Regions from separate parts of the Homo sapiens genome. Here region 2 is linked to region 1. A link means that fine-mapping ties the variant in region 1 to the expression of a gene that starts in the linked region. Tissue or cell type: monocytes after LPS. Region 1 holds a variant in brackets; the other region holds the start of a gene. All regions are shown on one strand. Distances are from middle to middle.

What was found. PIP is the estimated chance that this variant, and not a neighbour inherited with it, causes the effect.
Region 2: CLDND1 starts here. The variant in region 1 is fine-mapped to the expression of CLDND1 in monocytes after LPS (Kim-Hellmuth 2017, PIP 0.94).

What each region holds. Positions count from the first base shown.
Region 1 is chr3:98,605,511-98,608,278 of GRCh38, reverse strand. No RefSeq gene overlaps it. Among named protein-coding and RNA genes, the nearest start is that of CPOX, 13 kb to the right of the region's middle. The variant C/GCC (reference allele first, on the strand shown) is at 1,599.
Region 2 is chr3:98,521,616-98,524,115 of GRCh38, reverse strand. CLDND1 (claudin domain containing 1) reads left to right here and starts at 1,214. Exons shown (of 5, transcript NM_001040181.2): 1 at 1,214-1,267. It overlaps CLDND1-AS1 (CLDND1 antisense RNA 1), which reads right to left and starts at 1,546. Exons shown (of 2, transcript NR_198998.1): 1 at 1,283-1,546. RefSeq lists silencers at 968-1,607, 1,658-1,767.

The DNA of each region.
Region 1 (2,768 bases):
ATACCAGGTATATGCTGTATATACTGTATATACCTTGTATATATACCAGGTATATGCTGTATATACTGTATATAACTTGTATATATACCAGGTATATACTGTATATACTTTGTACATACTGTATATATACAGTATATGCTGTATATACTGTATATACTTTGTATATACAGTATATACTTTGTATTCAAGTAAATACTATTATCCTAAGTATAATCATCTGTTATATATACAGTATATACTGTATATATACAGTATATATACAGTATATACTGTATATATACAGTTACTTTATATACAGTTAAGAACTTTACAACAGAATAATCCAGTATGCCTCCTCCCTCATCCTTTGTGCTATTGTTGTCATTATATATATGTATATATATATATACATACACACATATGTTATGAAATCAGTCACACATTTTTGTTGTTTTAGCTTTAATCATTTGGTTGTTTTTTCAAAAATATTATGAAAAAAAGTCATTTTTTATAGTCTGAAAGTGACTAATTCCTTCCACTTTTTTAAATCTGAAAAAAAGTCTTCATTTTACCCTAATTTTTGAGGAATATTTTCACTGGATATAGAATTCTGGGTTGATTGATTTGTTTTTCTCTTAGGACTCTGGGTGTGTCATTCCATTGTCTTCTGGCCTCCATCAGAAGTCAACCATTGTTCATCTTATTTTTCTTTTTGTATGAATGTGTCCTTCATGTTTGGTTGCTTCCAAGCTTTTCTCTTTATCTTTGGTGGTCATGAGGTTGACTATAATATTCCAAAGTGTGATTTTCTTTGTATTTATACTTCTTGGTGTTTGTTGAGCTTCTTATATTTGTAAACTGATGTTTTCCACCAAATTTGGAGGGATTAGAGCCATCATGTCTTCAAATATTTTCTCTGCCCCATTTCCCCATTTCTGTCTCTCTCTCTGTGACTACAAGGATATATAGATCTCTTGATATTGTCCCACACGTCATTGAGGCTCTGTCCATTCTTATCTCAATCTTTTTTTCTTCTCTATTATATTGATTAGATAATTTCTATTGATTTGTCCTCAATCTCAAGAACCTCAATCTCCAGACTTCTGAAATCTTGAATCTGTTGTTAAGTGCGTCTTCAAACTTTTCATTTCAGATATTGAATTTTTCAGTTCTAGAATTTCCACTTGAATAACATGGGTAAAGTTTTGCTCATCTGAATTGACCATAAGTTTATCTTCAGAGATACTTACCCTTGGTCAAAGCTATAGAATTTATTAACTAAAGATAAAAGATGTTTTCTAACCACCTAAAGATGAAAGAAGCATTAGAAATGTGAATGTTGGCTGGGCACGATGCTCACACCTGTAATCCCAGCACTTTGGGAGGCCGAGCCTGGCAAACTCCTAAGGTTAGGAGTTCAAGACCACCCTGGTCAACATGGAGAAACACCATCTCTACTAAAACTACAAAATTAGCTGGGTGTGGTGGTGGGCACCTATAATGCCACTTACTCAGGAGGCTGAGGCAGAAGAATCAATTGAACCTGGGAGGCGGAGGTTGCAGTAAGCCAAGATTGCACCACTGCACTCCAGCCTGTGCAACAGAGTAACACCCTGTCC[C/GCC]CCCCCCCCAAAAAAAAAAAAAAGAAAAGAAAAGAAAAAGAAAAAGAAATGTGAATGTTTTAGGAAAAGAAATTCTAAAAGCTTTGTAACTAAAGATAAACTACAGTGTTGAATATGGGTATCAACTTTAGTCTCCACTTTCTTTATATCATCAGTTAACATTGTTGTTATTATTCCAGAATAAAAGAAAAAAGGGAGGAATGGATGAAACAAAAAGTAACAGGGCCTAGAAATTAGAGTGGATTCTAAAAGAAAAGATGGGAAGATAAAGAGAAATTTGATCTTTTTGTAATTCTTTGCAGATCCATAGTTTAGACAGACAGCAACATGGCGATTTTCTGACGACTCATGGGAGGAACATTAGCCAGTTCCAGACTTTTTCTGTTTCCCCTCTGTGTTGAAAATTAAACTCAAAACTTAACAGGTCAGGAAATGTCTACCCACCTGATTCCACTTGCTGCTGTAGCAACTTTTATTCTTAATTTACTTTGCTGAACCTCTGTTATGCACCGGTAAGATAGGAATAATAAGAAAATTTATTATTTTGATAGAATATTTGACTGAGTCAGCCAGGCGCGGTGGCTTACGCCTGTAATTCCAGCACTGTGAGAGGCCGAGGCAGGCGTATCACAAGGTCAAGAAATCAAGACCATCCTGGCCAACATGGTGAAACTCCGTATCTACTAAAAATACAAAAATTAGCTGGGTGTGGTGGCACATGCCTGTAGTCCCAGCTACTCGGGAGGCTGAGGCAGGAGAATCTCTTGAACCTGGGAGGCAGAGGTTGCAGTGAGCCAAGATTGCGCCACTGCACTCCAGCCTGGGCGACAGAGCGAGACGCTGTCAAAAAAAAAAAAAAATTGACTGAGTCAAATTAATAAGTCATCAGTGATTCACATCAGAGGAGAAACTAAAAGTTTTTAGATAATTGCTAAGTGTCAGGCACTGTGCTAAACAGCTAAGATAGGTTGTTTCGTTTTTTTCATACAAAAACAGTGAGAAATTTTCTTATTGCTATCTTATGGGTGAGGAACAGAGGTTCAACAAAGTAAATTAAGAATAAAAGTTGCTACAATGGCAAGCAGAGTCACGTGGGTAGACATTTCCTGAACCAAGTGAGTTTTGAGTTTAATTTTCAACACAGAGTGGAAAGAGAAAAAGTTTGGAACT
Region 2 (2,500 bases), 84 kb after region 1:
TATTTGGCTACTACCTTATTATGTGCTGCATATGAATATCAGTTTCACCCACTCAGGTCAAAGAAATGTAAGTACAGATAGAGAAACATATCATGCCTTTAATCTGTCAAAGTGGTAGAAATTTAATATCAACTTGCAGCTCCCATCTTTCTCCTATGCTAAATTACAAGGCATTAGGGGACAGAGTGGGGGTTTGAGAGCCCCTCTGGTCCTTGAGTCAGCTTTCTCTGTCGGTTACTGTTGAGAAATCCACCATTTGCTGGTCCCAGGCCACGTTAATAGTTCCACTCATGTTATTGTTAAGATGTCCCTGCTTCCTGTCCATGAATTTCTGTGTTAAACCTGAGGGTTCAGAATCATTGTTGCCCCTGTGCCACACATCATCTGCAATCTCCAATGCTGTCCATGACCTTATCTGCTTGAGTGATGTTCCCCAAATTTCAGTCTTTTTCCTACTATACCCACAATTTTTTATTCATTTTTTGACATATCTGGTATCCTCAGTATTATTAACTTAATAGTTTTTAAAATAAGTGAAAAGAATTTAAAAGGAACAACATTGCTGCAATAGAAAACTAGTATCACTTGTCATAAAAAGAAGGCAGCTACAAACACATTTTATGAAACCCAAATAATATCATTACATTCTTGATGGATACTGTCTGCCAGGTCACATACTTCTTAGCCTAAACTTATGCAATAAAACCAGAAGGATGCTCTGCTCCAATGGGAGGGATTCTGGGAGAGGGAAATAAAATGGGTCAACGTTTCACAAGTAGAATCCCATTTTTGTTCATTTATACTTAGATCTAGAGGCAGGGTGGTGTGATAGGGAAAGCACAGGCCTAAAAGTCAGATCTAAGTTATACAAGTCACGGTCATTGACTCGAGATGACCGGAAACAGGCCCGCTTTACTTTCTGGACCATTCTCCCTTCCTCCCTAAAATGCAAGAATCCAACAGCCTAGACTTCCCTTCTGCGTACCGGCTTGCCCTGAGGAGCTGAACTACATCTCCCACAATGCGCCGCGCGCGGCGCCAGGAATGCCTATCGCCGCCTCAGACAGCTTTCAGTCTGTCCCTCCTACAACTCCCACAAGGCCCCTCGGCCCCGGGCCGCGGCCCGGCCCGGAGTGGGGGCGGGCGGAGGCGCGGGAGTTATGGAGGGGGCGGGCTCTGCAGGGAAGTGCGTCAGAGGAGGCGCGGGGAGAGTAGGGTGCTGTGGTCTGAGCTAGAGGGTGAAGCTGGCGGAGCAGGAGGATGGGCGGTGAGTGAGCGGGACCTGCGTCGCCGGGCAGGGGTCGCGTCGCGGTTCCATGTTCCCGGCGGTTTGAAGAGGGGCCCCCTTCCCGGGCGTGGTCGGGCTGGGCGGGTTCCGAGCGGCGGATTTGTCCCAGGGCCGAGCCCTCTAGGGCGGGGCCTGGTCGGGTACCGGGGGACCCTGGCCCGGGGCCGAGCACGGCTGCCCCGCCCCAGCCCTGGCCTTCTCCGGCCCCGCCGTGAGGCCCAGGAGGTGGCTGCTGCAGGCGTCCGGCTTGGACGAACCGCCGTTCCCAGTGCTGGGACCCTTTAAGGTCATTTGAGAGCACCAGGATGAAGGGGGGATTTTTAAAAAATCAAAATACAAATCCAACTTTTTGAGTTTTCGTTGTCATTGCTCTTATCTTTCCTGAGTCACTTCCCATTTTCCAAACTCAGCAACCCCAGTTTGCGAGTCTGTTTTCATGAACCTTTGTAAGGTGTTTGGTGCGGTCACGGTGTATACTTGCCGTGTAGTATTTGACTCAGCGCGATCTGCCTTGAGTCATTTTACCGCGGCCATTTACTACTGCCGTTGAGCCCTGTCCACGCCTTGGGAGTGTTGATATGTTGAGAGTTTTCTGTCTGGCTGAGGAGGGATCATTTAGTTTTTGCGGACGTATGTTGCACTGAGGATTTAGGGAGAGAGCAAGATTTCTGTTGAGGAGGTTCAGAAGTATAAGGAATCGGGAGAGTAGATAGGAGTGAAGCATTTGGCAGCGTAAAGAAGCTTGGCTTAGCTTTAATGGATTAGGGAGAGATTGCTATCTAGCATTATTACATGTTATTGTTCTCTTTGCTATTTTATACACCTAGAACAACCTTTCCCTCGGGGTTAACAAACATCTTCAACTCTGTTTTCTGTATGGCTCCTGACTCTTACCTTTGTTTTAGGAGGCTTCCCTCTTCAGAGGAAACTGGGAGAAGCCAATTTCCACTGCTTCTTTTTCCTGTGCCTTTTTAACACTCAAACCCAGAACACTTAATCCTCTGCAGCTCGTGCAAAAATTCAGTCTGTAATTTAAAATGTGTGCACGGTACACTGCTGACCATGGGCATGTCTATTGTTTGTATCTGTAATGTGTATGTCCATTTCAGTGTTGTCTGTTTTAGTATGCAGGTGATAGACTAGAGAACAAGACCTCTGTCTCCGTAGCATCCTGGGTATGTGAGCATTCAATAAGTACTTTTATGAGAATGA